2 separate regions of the Homo sapiens genome follow, and region 2 is linked to region 1. Evidence: fine-mapped expression QTL. A gene starts in region 1. The other region holds a variant in brackets. All regions are shown on one strand. Distances are from middle to middle.

Region 1 (8,332 bases):
GACTATTGCGACATGTCTTAAAGCTTCTGAATTCATGAATCTTAATGGGTACTACAAAAGGTGAATGCAGATGAACATTTATTCTGTTACACAGTAGCAAAGCAGCAGGGGAGAAAAGTGATATAATTGCTTCAATTCTATCATTAATGTCACTTAATTTTGAATAAATTCACTTTAGATACATTTGAAAGTATCTTTCCAGCTACAGTTACTTATTTACTGGGTAAAAATTGAAGTAAAACTGTTCCTACACTCATGATCTCAGTCTACTATGGAAATTTTGCCAGAAAGAGCTATTAAGTAACTCCTGCGAAGGGCACATTTAGTGTCTAAGCTGACTCAAAAGGCAAGGAGGGCATCCTAGGGTTTGCTGTGTATGTGTACAAAAATTAGCAGGAAAATACCTAGAATAGCACTTCAAAGAAAATTCATGCCTCAGAAAGTTTCTTATAAAAAATGCACAGGCCAGGTGTAGTGGCTCACGCCTGTAATCTCAGCACTTTGGGAGGCTAGGGTGGGCGGATCAGTTGAGGCCAGGAGTTCGAGACCAGCCTGGGCAACATGGAGAAACCCTGTCTCTACTAAAAATACGAAAATTAGCCAGCAATGGTGGTTCGTGCCTGTAGTCCCAACTACTTGGGAGGCTGAGGCAGGAGAATTGCTTGAATCCAGAAGGCAGAGGTTGCAGTGAGCTGAGATGGTGCCACTGCACTTCAGCCTGAGCCTGACAGAGCAAGAATCCGTCTCAAAAAAAAAAAGTACAATCACCCCAAACAAAATTTTGGAATTAAAAAAAATGAAGGAGACTGTAGTTTATAGGATACCTTTCTTTCTTGCCTTTCTAGTTTATGGGATGTTTTTCTTGATATAAAACAACGTCCTACCAAGCCCTTCATAGGGCACATCAGTTAAAAAATAAGCAGTCTCTGTTACAAACGCTCAACTATCTGTCTATTGGGACCACGCATGGTGGATACAAATGGCAACAATACAGTTTCTATCCTTAGGGGAAAGGCCCAGAAGCAGAACTTTTCCTGGAGGAGACAGTCCCTGAGCTTGATCCTGAAAGAGTGTGCCCCCTAAAAAGCAGGACAGGAGAAAGGGCATGCCCTGCACCAGGAACATTTTGTGTTCCTATTCTAAACAAGCTCAAGGGCTACAAGCTGAATCTTGCAGTGTGTATACAAATACAGAACTCATATTTTAGCGATTTAGAAACACAGTGTTTTATAAAGGTAAGGCTAACAAAATGAAAGCCTTAGAACACTACTCCAATGCAAATTTATCTTCATGATACCCATTTCTACTTTTTTTTTTTTTTTTTTTTTTTTGAGATGGAGTCTCACTCTATCCCCCAGCTGGAGTGCAGTGGTGTGATCTTGGCTCACTGAAACCTCCGCCTCCTGAGTTCAAGCGATTCTCCTGACTCAGCCTCCTGAGTAGCTGGGATTACAGGCATGCACCACCACGCCCGGCTAATTTTTGTATTTTTAGTAGAGACGGGATCTCGCCATGTTGGCCAGACTGGTCTCGAACCCCTGACCTCAGGTGATCTGCCCTCCTAGGCCTCCCAAAGTGCTGAGATTACAGGCATGAGCCACCATGCCTGGACTTCTACTCCCATTTTTAAAAGTTATCACTACCAGATTTTCCTGCAGCCCTAGGCCCAAAAGAGTTTCTCTCATCCTCTTTCAAGCCCTCCCCATTCTGAAGGGACTTGCCCTGGATGTTTATAGGACAGCTAAGTGGCCCTAAGGAAGAGTGAACTTTGGAAAAAGATCAGCGGAAAAGAATTAAGTGGGACTGTATTCCTAGCAGGTACTTTCAAGATGAAATCTATAAACTGATAAGGAAAGCTGAAAACACAATATGCTCCTGAAATTGAAATATGTATATTTTGGTCTGTTGAAACCTAAGAATGAAACTGAACCAGGTTTTGGCAAATTAATTGACATTCCCCAAGCCCTATTTGTTAAGTGGGTGTTCCTTGGAATCACCTGTGGGGCCAGGAAAGAAATAGAGGGACGAGAAAGAAGGGTGGTAAAGAGGAAGGGAAGAAACCAGCACTGTCCCAGAGGCAGAGCTGGGTGTGTGCTGAAGTGCTGAGGGTGGGGGAAAGACAAGATTTTCACACCAGAAAACAAAGAAACAAGCAGAGGCCCCAGAGAATTATGTGGTCCTTAAAGTTTGGAAGCCTTTCTCTAATTCCTTATCAACATCCCTCAAGGAATCAGAAGTAAACTGTTAACTGAAGCTCCTCCTCAGTAGACTGAGCCACCCACAGCCAGATAACTGCACAATCAACTAAAACTTTACTTCACATGTATTAGGTGCATGCATAACACTACTCCAAGGCATGATGGACCTATACAAGGCCAAGCAAGGTGGCTCACAACTGTAACCCCAACACTTTGGGAGGCCAAAGCGCTTGCACCCAGGAGTTCAAGACCAACCAGGGCAAGATGGTGAGACCCCATCTCTACCTAAAAATTTTAAAAATCAGCCGGGTATGGTGACACATGCCTGCTGTGGGAGGATGGCTTGAGCCCGGAAGGTGGAGATCCACCATGATAGTGCCACTGCACTCCAGCCTGGGCGACAGAGCGAGACCCTATCCTATTAAAATTGTGTGTGTGTGCGCGTGCGCGCACGCATGCGTGTAAAAACTGTGTGTGTATATATATGTGTGAGTGTATATATATACACACACACATAAACTCTGGTAACTATTAATAAAATGCAAGACAGAGGTAACTACCACCACTGGTACAAAGTGCACTTTTTTTTTTTCAGACGGAGTTTCGCTCTTATTGCCCAGACTGGAGTGCAATGGCACCATCTCGGCTCACCGCAACCTCCGCCTCCCGGGTTCAAAGGATTCTCCTGCCTCAGCCTCCCGAGTAGCTGGGACTACAGGCATGTGCCACTACGCCCGGCTAATTTTGTATTTTTAGTAGAGACGGAGTTTCTCCATATTGGTCAGGCTGGTCTCGAACTCCCGACCTCAGATGATCCGCCTGCCTCGGCCTCCCAACGTGCTGGGATTACAGGGGTGAGCCACCGCGCGCGGCCCAAAGTGCACTTTTTAATATGCCTTCACTATTCAACCACGGGCACTCATGGGCCAGAAAGAACAAAGGCACAGTTAACTCCACTGCTCTGGAGAAAAGAAAGCTGACAACAAGGAATCTGATGCCTTCCTTCAGTGGGAAGGAAACACCCTGACATTGGAAGTGGTCTCCACACCGGGTTGTACACTGATGGGGGGCGGAGTCGGGGGCAGGCCAACACCTCAACAGCAGTCACCAAAAAGGTGCTTTTAACTATCAATAGCAAGTATTAACATGTTTATAGATTGCTGCTAACAGCTGGCCAAAGAAAGGTACATACAAATGCCCCTTTTTAAAAAACAAAAATAGCAAGGATTGTAACCGTAGGGGTGGGGGGCGGGGTGGGGGAAGCACACACTAAAAATCAGTTTGGGCAGAATTTAAGCTGTTAAATGGACACACTTAGCAAACTCTCTGGGCTCCATCGGCCCCCACCTCCCCTCTGGAAACATCGCCTCGCCCAGGAATTAGGACTGCGTGTATGTTCGCCTAACACCTGCTGCGGCCTCCAGCGACATCGTCGCCGACAGGACTGCGCTGGCACCCTCCCTGCTGGGCTAGTCCTGTCTCCGTCACTAAACGCCTGTGACCTTAGGTAAACTGCTTAGTCTCAGTATTCTCATTCGTAAAATGGGGATGAGAACACAGTCGTCGCAGGATCGCAGCCAGAATTCGTTTCATTCAACACGGTGCCTGGCACTTCTATGTGGACCTGCGGGCAGACGCGGCGACATTCAACAGAGTCCAGGAACCGCAGGCCCCGCGGCCTGGGCGGTCAACCTCGGAACCTCCTGCAACGCTGGCTCCCGGGAAGCAGACCCAACTCCGCGGGGCGCCTCCACCTGCCAAGCCCCTCCAGCCGCGCCTCTCCCCGAGCCCGCCAGCGCCGTAGGGGCCGCAGGGCGCAGGGCTTCGGAGGACCGGAGGCCGGGGCGGGGACAGCGACCCGGCGCCCACCCCGAGGGCCCCACGCGAGGGCACCACGTCCCCGGCGTCTCCCCGGGCTCCAGGGGCAGCAGCGCGGCTCGGAGCCCTTTACCTGCCAACGATCACCACGCAGCCGGCCGCGGAGGACGCCATGGTTGGGCCGGGGACGCGGCGCCGCGGGCGCTGGGACCAGGCGCCGGCGGAGCTGCGAGCTCTGGGCTCCGGGGAGGGCGGGTCCCGCGCCCATTGGCTGCGCGCGCGGACCGGGAGGGCGGGGAGGGCCGCTTGGTCCCTGAGTGGGGTGCGCGCCGCGGGCCCGAGACACCGGGAGACACACGGCGCGCCGACCCTCGTGGGCAGGGGCAGGACCAGCGCGGGGGCACGTCGGGGGGTGGAAAGCGGGAAGACCACGCGCTTGTGACTGTCAGCATTCACCGTGAAGTCCGTGTCTATAGGAGGGGACACGGGCAGGCTGGCACGGGCTCTAGCGCTAAAGCACCCTAGAGAAACTGTCAGAGAATGTCCCCTTTGCTAATTCGTCTCTGAAAGACGCCTGCCGCTGCCGCCAACTGCGAACTGGGCGCAGGGACTGCGACAGCAGTGAAAGAGAACACCTGATGCGTTCATCTGCGCTACGGAAGGACACGTCTGAATTCCTCCACGGAGCACACTCTGCACTCGGTTTATGTATCAGAAAAAGGAAATGCCCTCGTGCCCTGACTCCTGGCCTTCTTGGAGCCCGGAACAGACCAAGAGGAAGGGGCATCACACATTGCCTGACAGTGGTGTGCGTCCACACAGCACAAGCTGAACGGGAAATGACACAGTCATTAGACAGAGGAGACAGTACTCAAGCTGGAACCGCAGCCAACACTGAGATGATAAAAGGAAGTCTTCCTTTGTTTCCCCTGAGTCAGGAACGTGGAAAGAGAAATCTCAGGGGAGGGGTTAGGTTTTTTTGTTTTGTTTTGTTTTTTAAAGAACAGTTTCACAAATTATCGATAAATATTTGTAAAGTATTCAACCTCAAGAGAAATGAAAAGTAACACAAGGAAGATAAGTCATCTCTCACTCATCAGATTGGCTAAGTCACATGGATTGATTATATTCCCATATCCGTAATGGAGTGTTTCGGACATGCAACTTACACACAGTAGAAGGCAAGCTTAAATGTTGAGGACTTTTTGGAGGGAATGTTACAGTACATTGTTGAGACAGCCGCTAGCCTGAGCAACCGCGCCTGCTCTGGCTGAGAATACAAGGCTCCAAAGCTTCCATCTTCTGATGGAGCAGTTTCTGTAGTCAGTTACACAGGCAGCCAATATAATAATCAAGGCACCCAGGGAGTGAGCATCCTGTGACTGCTCACTACCGGAGGCTATGGGGGCAGCAGACTGGCTTGTTTGCTGCTCCCTGCAAAGTCATGCCTGAAATCCCAGCGCTTTGGGAAGCTGAGTAGTAAATAATAGCTTGAGGCCAGGAGTTCAAGACCAGCCTGGGCAACAAAGCGAGACCCCTGTCTCTACCAAAAAATTAAAAAACTTATCCAGGCTGGTGCCGCCTGTAGTCTCAGCTACTCAGTAGGCTGAGGCAGGAGGATTGCTTGAAGCCAGGAGTTTGAGACCAGCCTGTGCGAGATAGTGAGAACCCCCCCCCCCGCATCTCTAGTGTGTGTGTATATATATGTGTGTGTGTGTGTGTGTGTGTGTGTGTTTATATATTTATTTATTTATGTGTACATATATTTATAACTTTAATCCTTCTGGTACCAAACAAAAAAAATACAGATTTATTTAAATTAGCCAGGTGTGGTGGTGCATTCCTGTAGTCCCAGCTACTCAGGAGGATCTCTTGAGCCCTGGAGTTCAAGGCTGCAGTGAGCTATGATTTTGCCACTCTACTCCAGCCTGGCTAACAGAACAAGACTTTGTCTCAAAAGAAAGCAAAAGTGGCTGGACGCGGTGGCTCACGCCTGTAATCCCAGCACTTTGGAAGGCCGAGGCGGACGGATCACAAGGTCAGGAGATCGAGACCATCCTGGCTAACACGGTGAAACTCCGTCTCTACTAAAAATTAGCCAGGCGTGGTGGCAGGCGCCTGTAGTCCCAGCTACTCGGGAGGCTGAGGCAGGAGAATGGTGTGAACCCAGGAGGCAGAGCTTGCAGTGAACCAAGATCACGCCACTGCACTCCAGCCTGGGCGACAGAGCGAGACATCATCTCAAAAAAAAAAAGAAAGCAAAAAGTGCTGGGCCCTTGCTCGTTGCAAACACAGGAGTCATCTGGCCCTCTATGTAACCCTGTGGGAATTAAGGATCCAAGAACCCATATAAATATGGTGTCACTCTGGCTATTGCTTTTACTGTAATAAGATAATTTATTTTTAATCCAGGAGTCTCGTGACTTCTGTCAGCATCCAAGTGCAGAACCTCTGTTGCAATTTAGTGAAAATCTCAGACCCTTGCAGTTTCTGACATACACAAAATTTAGAATGTATGTACCCTTTGGCTTAGCAGTTCCAATTCTAGAGATCTGTTGTACAGAAATTCAAGTGGACAAGAAGTTAGACAAATTTCTTTATTTCAGCATGGTTGTTAATAGAAAAATATTGAAAACATGATGAATATCAATGAGAAATGTTTTTAAAGACTATGGAATTTTCGGAGAATGTCTGCTTCTGACCAAGAGGAAAAATAAGGATGAAACTTAAACTCCTTCTTGAAACAACTAGAAGGCCCCCAAAATAGAAGAAACAGGGATTTCAGACCCTGGACAAGAGGCAGCCTAGGACAGCGATCCCTGAGAGAGGGAAATAGACAAGGCATGGGCTGCAGCTCCGAAAGGGAAAGCTCAGAGCCTGGTTTTCTCACTGAGTTAAGGAAAAAGGAGACTGAAGTTCAGAAAAGCCAAATGATGAGAATTTGCAGGGCATGGTAGCAGAGAGGAGGCAAACACTCAGGGGAAAGAGGGAACTCCAGGGACCTGTAGAAGAGAGAGGCCCTTCACATGTTTGGCTGAGTGCTGAGCTGTGCGTGTGAGAGAGGAACCTGTGAGAGGGTGGGGTGAGAAGTCCCAGAATGAGTAAGCCAACCACCCCCAGACTCATGCAGGACTCAAAGATGTGTGTTCCCACAGCCAGACTGAAAAGACCTCATAATACACAGGACACCAGATAGAATCCTCAGGAACATGTGGCTTCAGCAGTGGAGCTAAGCTAGTCCTAGACTAAAGGTTTCTCTGGAACCATTTTAAGAAAGATCAAAAGCCAGCCTCACAAGGACCACCCAGATTCCAGGTAACTTAACTGTACTCCAGAACAAAATCCGTTACTATTGAAAGGAACACAACAAGTTTGAAAAAGAACACATTTAGAAGAACTCTACGTGATTTCAGCATTTACTATAAGTGAAACTCCCAATGTGATGGTAGTTAGGGACTGGAGCATTTGGGAGGTATTTAGGTCGTGAGGGTGGAGCCTTCATGAATGGGATTACTGCCCTTTTAAAAGGGACTACAGAGAGCTCTCTTGTCCTCTTTCCACCATATGAAGATATAACAAGAAGACAGCAGCCTGCAACCTTGAAGAGGGCCTTCACCAGAGCCCAATCTTGCTGACACTCTGATCTTGAACTTCCAGCCTTCAGACTGTGAGAAATAAATGTTGGTTGTTCATAGGCTACCCAGTTCATGGTACTTCTGTTACAGCAGCCTGAACTGACTGAGAAAGGTACAAAGACAATTCAATAGAAAAAGGATAGTCTTTTCAACAAATGGTGCTGGAGCAATTGGATATGCATAAGCAAAAATAATAATAATAATCAACACCTTAATTCTTACCACTTAACCACATACAAAACCTCAAAATGCATTATAGACCTAAATGTAAAACCTAAAAACTATAAAACATGCAAAAGAGAACAGAAAACTTTGTGACTGTTAGGCAAAGATTTATTAGATATGACATCATAAGCGTAACATAAAAGAAAAGGTTGCTTAGTTTGACTTCATCAAAATTAAGAACTTAGACATTTTCTAAGACAATATTAAGAAAATGGAAGGAAAAGCCACAATTTGGGATAAAATATTTCAAATCACGTATGTTACAGGGCTTGTATAGGAAATATATTAAAAAGTCTTAAACTCAATAATAATTTTTTTTTTTTTTGAGACGGAGTCTCACTCTCACCCAGGCTGGAGTGCAATGGCACAATCTTGGCTCACTGCAACCTCCACCTCCTAGGTTCAAGCAATTCTCCTGCCTCAGCCTCCCAAGTAGCTGGGATTACAGGTGCCCCC
Region 2 (8,321 bases), 43 kb before region 1:
TTATTTGGGTTTGTTTGTTTGTTTTTGAAACAGGGTCTTACTCTATCACCCAGGCTGGAGTACAGTGGCAGAATCTCAGCTTACTGCAACCTCCACCTCCTGGGCTCAAGTGATCCTCCCACCTCAGCCTCCCAAGCAGCTGGGATCACAGGCATGCACCACCATGCCATACTAATTTTTTGTATTTTTGGTAGAGACGGTGTTTCACCATGTTGCTCAGGCTGGTCTCGAACTCCTGAGCTCAAGCAATCTACCCGCTGTGGCCTCCCCATGTTCTGGGATCACAGGCATGAGCCACCACATCCAGCCCTCTTCTCGCTCTGTTGCCAGGCTGGAGTGCAGTGGCGCGATCTTGGCTTGCTGCAACCTCCGCCTCCCAGGTTCAAGTGATTCCCCTGCCTCAGCCTCCCAGGTAGCTGGGACTACAGGCATGCGCCACACCAAGCCCAGCTAATTTTTTTTTTTTTTTGTATTTTAGTAGAGACGGGGTTTCACCATGTTGGCCAGGATGGTCTCAATCTCCTGACCTGATGATCCCCCGACCTCGGCCTCCCCAAGTCTGTAAGGCCTCCCTTTACACCTGTAAAGGATTACAGGTGTGAGCCACCGCGCCTGGCCATCTTTCTTTTAAATAGGGATTTGAGATTCCGTTTAAGTTTAGAGGAAATTTAGGGTTAAAACTATTTTAGGAACCAAATTAAGAATGTGGATGTTGGGATGATGCCACATTGGTTGTTGCAAACTGGGACAATGTTTTCAAGTAACACTTTAATAATCACTTTAAAGATCAGCAGACCCAACACTGGCAAGCTTGAAATCCAACTGTGCTAACACATGACTCCTGAAGGTGTACTGGCAATTTTTACAATGCCACTCAGCAAAATGTTATCAAGAGCTGGAAAGGGGCTTACATCTAGTAATTCCCTATGAATGAACTTGCCCTGAAGAAAGTCACAAAAAGCATGGAAGAATGAGATAGAGGGATGATCAACCAAGTTTAACTTACAATCGCACAGTACTGGAAGTAGCCATAAGATCATTATTTTCTAGGTGATATTTGACTTAGTTGATACATCCACTTGACAGACTCTTACACAGCCACTAGAAAGTGTTAAATGTTGATTAATATAAGTAGAATATGACACTGTATCTATAAAGACACACTATCATTACAATTATAAATATTATATGTGGAAAAAAGGCTGGAGGTAAATATATTAAAATGTCACAAATGGGTATTAGAGGAATTGAATTAGGCATGTCTTCCTCTTTGTAGCATGCAAACTTTGTTAATATTTATAGATAATATTTTTTAAAGGGAGGGTTTCTGTCCTAAAGAACCCTGGAAGGAAAACTGGCTGGCCCAGCCCTGGGGACAGAGCATTGAGTATGTCAGTGTTGAGACAGGGATGCTGGGGCTGCCCCTGCGCTCTCCCACGGCACACAGTTCATCAAGAAGTCATGGACCAAGCTGTTACCAAGAACTACATTTTCCTACACTGCTGCAAGAACACACCAGGTGACCTCCCCATCCACTCCCTAACACCTAAGTCAAAATCGCAACACAGCTAGATCCCAGCCTTCCAGACTTAAAGACATTATGAAGAAGAAACATTTACTTCTTTGAAAAAATGCACGGCCAGGCATGGTGGCTCATGTCTATAATCCCAGCACTTTGGGAGGCCAAGGCAGGCGGACCTGAGGTGAGTTTGAGACCAGCTTGGCCAGCATGGTGAAACCCTGTCTCTACTAAAAATATAAAAATTATCCGGGTGTAGCAGTGGGCACCTGTAATCCTAGCTACTTGGGAGGCTGAGGCAGGAGAATCACTTGAACCCAGGAGGCAGAGGTTGCAGTAAGCCAAGATCAGTGAGCCAACAATCCAGCCTGGGTGACAAGAATGAAACTCTGTCTCAAAAAAAAAAAAATTACCGTCTTCCATTGGCAGGTGGTTGTGAAGGGGGAAAAGCCAAAATGCCCAAACTGAAAGGTAAAGTAGAAATTCAGGCTAACGCTGACCTTGAGCCAGGCTTCCTGGCAAAGATCAAAGCCTGTTGCCTTCTAACATTCTGCTCCAGCACACATAACTTCATACTCCACCCCACAAGGTAGAGGCCAAAGAGAACAAATCATGGTGGAGTACTTTCCTAATGCTCCTGCAGGTCCCACGATGTCTGAGACACAGGCAGGTCACTGCCTCGTCCATCACTGCAGGGCCTGCCAGCGCAAATCATGCCAATAACCTGCCGTTCGTGGATGCTGCGGGGACCCACAATGCTGGCCATGTTTAGTCCTCACCTGCAGGCACACTGAATGCAATGAGGATGCCCTCCTCTTCTAAGACTTTATTTTACTGTCCTTCTTATGTTTTGACTTAGCATTTTTTCAAGTCCTATTTGGTCACAGAAGAAGATAAATACATAATTACAGATTAAGAGAAAAACTTGCCTGTCTCTTGAATGTATAACATTTTTCATTACTTGCTCATATTATATCTTTGAAGCTATACATACTACAAAAAAAAAGCCAAGCAAATAAATAAAAATACAGCTTCACAGAAATAAGACCTCGTGCCCAGTTCTGTAAGCACACTATTTGAATAAAGCAAGAGCAAGCCATCAGAAAAGTAAGGGCTGTGGCAGGAAGCTAGTAGAACATTAGGACAGAATGTTTTCACACTTCGCAAGTGAAAACTGAAGGCTCGTGCTTCCAGATGATCTCGTGAGTGTGTGAGGTGGGCTTGCCCCAGTCCATCCAGAGTCCCACGCACCTTAGTAATGTCATACCACTCAGCAACAAATTACCAATCAACACAACCACACAAGCCACGTCAAATTCATTTTACTCTGTGAAAGAAACCAAACTCAAAAGGCTGCATCATGTATGATTCCATTTTACATAACATTCTGGAGAAGGCAAAACTATAGGGACAAAGAACAGATCAGTGGTGGGCAAGGCCTGGGGAACGGTGGGAGGAAATTAGCTGCAAAGGGAAGGAGAGGCTCTATGCTCTGAACCCCAGCTGTGACGCTGATTTCATACGTGACTGTACGCATCTGTCAGACACATAGCACTGAACCCTGAAACGAGTGAATTTTCTTGTATGGAAATTATATCTTTGTAAACCTGATTTTACAGTTTTTAAAGAAAAAAACACGTATGGCCATGCGTGGTGGCTCACTCCTGTAATTCCAGCACTTTGGGAGGCCGAAGCGGGCAGATCACCTGAGGTCAGGAGTTCAAGACCAGCCTGGCCAACATGATGAAACCCCGTCTCTACTAAAAATACAAAACTTAGCCCGGCATGGTGGTGGGCGCCTATAATCCCAGCTACTTGGGAGGCTGAGGTAGGAGAATTGCTTTAACCCGGGAAGCAGAGGTTGCAGTGAATCAAGATCGCACCACTGCACTCCAGCCTGGGTGACAAAGGTGCGACTCCATCTCGAAAGGAAAAAGAAAAAACACATACAACAGAAAAAGTGTAACTCCAGTTTCCTCGCACATTCCCGAATATTCTCAGGGCTGGCCATCCCATGTGTCCAATGCTGCCTGAACCCCCCACCCCCACACCCATCTCTACCAAAAGAAGAAATATTCTGAGTCTCAGTGAACCAAGACTGAAAGTCCAACAATCCTTTAAGAAAACAAATAAATTTCCAAAAGAACGCTACTTCCTGTAATTACTGACAGTGTCTGAAGGTCCTTTTCAAAATGATTAGCATTCTCTCCATTTTAAAGATATAGTTGAGATGCAAATTCTGATCATCTACATAGACAATATCCATTTAACTTCTCGATTTCAGCTATTGCAGATTGTTCTGACTTTGTGTAAGGAAACCCCATTTAAACTTCGTAACTCTATAAATCATTCCCATGGCTCCCACCAGCTACTGTGATCTCCGGTTTTAAGTTCCAGAGATTAGATAAGGCCTCGACATAGTGGCTAATGAGCTTTAATGTGCTTTAAAAGTCAAGGCTTGAGACCAGCTTTTCAGAGTAAACTTATTTTTCCAGAACAGTAGGTTTTCTTGCCAGGCAAGATTTGATTTCAAAATTGCACTAAGTTCTAGAAATTCAGGTTTCTTTCTTGCGTGCTCCCGGATTTCAGCAGAGTATTAGGAAACGTCCTGACCCAGGCTCCCCGCCCTCTAGGGTTGGGTAGAAAACAATCCACTGGGGAAAACCACACTCCCATTACTGGGCTTCGCCCCCTGGGGCTGGGCAGATCCGACAGTGGGATTATTTTTAGTTGAAGCATTGTGGCAAGCAGTCTGTGTGTGTGTGTGTGTGCGCGCGTGTGTGTGCGCACGCACACACGCGTCTCCTCAAACTCTGCCTCCTGCTTGTGAACAATTCCCTAAATAGTAATAATTTTCTTTTTATAAGAAAACCACAGCAACATATTTTATAAGAAAACTGTAGCAACATAGATGGCATTGGAGATCATTATATTAAGCGAAGTAAGCCAGGCACAGAAAGGCGAAGATCCCATGTTCTCACTCATGTAGGGGAGCTAAAGCAGTGGGTCTCATGGAGGTAGAGAGTAGAATGGTGGACACCCGCAGCCGGCAGTTACCAGGAAGGGGAAGGAGCGATGAAGAGAAGCTGGTTAATGAGTACAAAATACAGTTCGCTAGAAGGAGCAAGGTCTAGCATTCAATAATACAGTAGGGAAATTAGAGTTAATAATGTTATATATTTCAAAATAGAAGATTTATAGTGTTCCCAACACAATAAAAGATAAACGTGTGAGGTTCTGGATATCCTAATACACCGGGATTTTACCATGACACACTGAACACACAAATCAATCACACATGAATCCCAAATATGTACAATTAAGATACAGCAAGTAATTTTTTATTTATTATTATTTTTTTAAGACGGAGTCTCACTCTGTCGCGCAGGCTGGAGGGCAGTGGTGCGATCTCGGCTCACTGCAAGCTCCGCCTCCTGGGTTCACGCCATCTGGA[C/A]TGACCATATCATCAACATGAAGTCAGCTTTCTCACTTGGACTGTAACGTACCACATCATCATTCTAAAAGAGCTCTGTACAGTCTTTCTTTTATTTTGGTTTGTCTGTTTGTTTTTGAGACAGGGTCTCACTCTATCACCCAGGCTGGAGTACAGTGGCGGGATCTCAGCTTACTGCAACCTCCACCTCCTGGGCTCAAGTGATCCTCCCACCTCAGCCTCCCAAGCAGCTGGGACCACAGGCATGCACCACCATGCCATGCTAATTTTTTGTATTTTTGGTAGAGACGGGGTTTCACCATGTTGCTCAGGTTGGTCTCGAACTCCTGAGCTCAAGTAATCCACCCGCTGTGGCCTCCCCATGTTCTGGGATCGCAGGCATGAGCCACCACATCCAGCCCTCTTCTCGCTCTGTCGCCAGGCTGGAGTGCAGTGGCGCGATCTTGGCTCACTGCAACCTCCACCTCGCAGGTTCAAGTGATTCCCCTGCCTCAGCCTCCCGGGTAGCTGGGACTACAGGTGCCCACCACCACACCTGGCTAATTTTTTGTATTTTTAGTAGAGACAGCATTTCACCGTGTTAGCCAGGATGGTCTCCATCTCCTGACATCGTGATCTGCCCGCCTTGGCCTCCCAAAGTGCTGGGATTACAGGCGTGAGCCACCGCGCCTGGCCAAAATACAGCAATTAATTTTTTTTAAAAAAAGAAAACTGTCTCCAAGTAGCCTAGATTGATTTTTCTACACTGAGAACCTTCCCTTGTATAAATCAGAAAAAGGAGCTGTGAGAGCTGCTAAGAGGGTGCCACTGGCAAAAAGTCTGTGGACCCTGAGATGAGGCAGCACCACAGGGCGGGTGAGTGGTTGCCAGCAGATGAGTGGTTGCAGCCCGGCAGAGGCTGCGGACTTTGGGAACCTCAGCTTTAATGGAATTCTTAGACGGAAGCTTCTTTCAGGTTTGCCATCAAATGGTGACTATCACAATTTTTTAAGTCTAAAAATTATATGTCTCACTTGAGGTCAGGAGTTCGAGACCAGCCTGGCCAACATAGTGAAACCCTGTTTCTACTAAAAATACAAAAATCAGCTGGGTGTAGTGGCAGATGCATGTAATCCCAGCTAATTGGGAGGCTGAGGCACGATAATCGCTTGAACCCAGGAGGCAGAGGTTGCAGTGAGCCAAGATTGTGCCACTTCTCTCTGATACAGCCCCGAGCACATCGTACAGCAGGAAATGTTCTAAGTTTTAAATAAAAACCATGATGCAAAATTCTATTTACAGTATAATCTCAAATGTATTAGAAAGAGAGAAAATAAACAGGAGAAGTGGAAACATATAAATACACAAAAATCTTCAGTATTTTTGGAATAATGAACCTAAACAGGATTGTCCTAAACTTTCTTTACAACACAGAGATGTTTAATTAGGTAAGATACATGTTTAACATTACATTGTGTTAGAAACACTAATGTACTTTAACAAACATGTGGGGCAGCATTAGGTAGGTTTCACTCTGGGGGTTTCATTTACTTGTTTGTTTGGTAAACCTGAGACACTAATATGCACTAGGTTTTGTTGTTGTTGTTGTTGTTGTTGAGACAAGGTCTCACTCTGTCGCCCAGGCTGGAGTGCAGTGGCTCCATCTCGGCTCACTGCAACCTTTACCTCCTGGGTTCAAGTGATTCTCATGCCTCAGCCTCTCAAGTAGCTGGAATTACAGGCATACACCACCACGCCTGGCTAATGTTTTGTATTTTTAGTAGAGATGGGGTTTCACCATGTTGCCCAAGCTGGTCTTGAACTACTGAGCTCAGGCAGTCTGCCCACATTGGCCTCCCAAAGTGCTGGGATTACAGGTGTGGACCACCACGCCCAGCCTATGCACTAGTTTTAAAATTCAGAGGATTAAATTTGCTTTACATCATATAAAGAAATGTGTAGGCTGGGCGCAATGGTTCATGCCTGTAATCCCAGGACTTTGGGAGGTGGAGGCAGGTGGATCACTTGAGGTCAGGAGTTAGAGAGCAGCCGGGCCAACATGGTGAAACCCCATCTCTATTAAAAAATGTACACAAAAAATTAGCCATGTGTGGTGGCACATGCCTGTAATCCCAGCTACTCAGGAGGCTGAGGCATGAGAATCCCTTGAGCCCAGGAGGTGGAGGTTGCAGGGAGCTGAGATCACGCCACTGCACTCCAGCCTGGACAACAGAGCCAGACTCCATCTCAAAGAAAAAAGAAAGATAGAAAAGAAAAGAAAAGAAAAGAAATGTGTAAACATGCCCAAGAAAATCAGTTAACTGGCAAAAATGAACTGCTGATTCTTTTTTCTTACTCATCTTTCCTTCTGATTCATTTCATTCTCCTACTAAATACCTTCCTTGCAGGATTCTAATCAGGACTTAGATTGAAATCCAAACCCTTTAGTTCTTTATTTTTTTTATAATTATTTTTTCTTCAGGTCTCATAATATTTTGTTTGTTTGTTTGTTTTTTGAGATGGAGTCTTACTCCAGTTGCCCAGGCTGGAGTGCAGTGGCCTGATCTCGGCCCACTGCAACCTCCACCTCCCAGACTCAGGAAATCCTCCCACCTCAGCCTCCCAAGTAGTTGGGACCACAGGCACATGCCACCACACCCGGCTAAGTTTTTGTATTTTCAGTAGAGATGAGGTCTCACCATATTGGCCAGGCTGGTCTTGAACTCCTGAGCTCGAGCAATCCGCCACCCTCAGCCTCCCAAGAGTGCTGGGATTACAGGCGTGAGCCACCACACCCAGCCTTCATCTTTATTTCTTTAAAGAAACACATAAATGGTGCTTCTCTTCGTGTACTCCTCTAAGCACTGTGTATTACTCAATTCACCTAAGTAATTCTTCAGGTTGGCATTCGTAGCATGGCGACTTGGTTTCCACCTTGGACCAGCCTTTCCTACCTTTCCAATGGGTCTGTAACGTGGCCTTAGAAACATCCTCAAAGGGACTTCTCATCTCATTCATCTCTTCCTCCCACACAATCCTCCCACCCCCACCCCAAAATCCACTTGTCAAAAGTCAAGACAAGCTCTAATCCTACCTGCATTAAACCTTCCCGAAGCCTCCCGGTCAGAACTATTCCTACCCACTCCTTTCTCTGGTACTGGAGGTACAACAATTTCTGAAGAATATAAACTCTCATAGGAATTAAACCTACTAGTTTACATCATCTTTCTCTAGTTTCCTCTCCTCATCCGGCTTGGCTCTGTGTTCTACATAATAGATATGGCTCAACATGTCATGCCTTGTAAATACACTCATTTAATCTATAAAATAAAGATAGACTGTAGTTAAAGAGCAGTTTTCACTAGTGCC

What was found.
Region 2: its variant is fine-mapped to the expression of CRYL1 in whole blood (TOPMed, PIP 0.97).

What each region holds. Positions count from the first base shown.
Region 1 is chr13:20,521,605-20,529,936 of GRCh38, forward strand. CRYL1 (crystallin lambda 1) reads right to left here and starts at 4,253. Exons shown (of 8, transcript NM_015974.3): 1 at 4,150-4,253. The coding sequence starts at 4,190. RefSeq lists a silencer at 3,929-4,478 and enhancers at 4,659-4,768, 7,117-7,226.
Region 2 is chr13:20,478,468-20,486,788 of GRCh38, forward strand. The region is part of intron 3 of CRYL1 (crystallin lambda 1); the gene reads right to left. Among named protein-coding and RNA genes, the nearest start is that of CRYL1, 43 kb to the right of the region's middle. The variant C/A (reference allele first, on the strand shown) is at 4,974.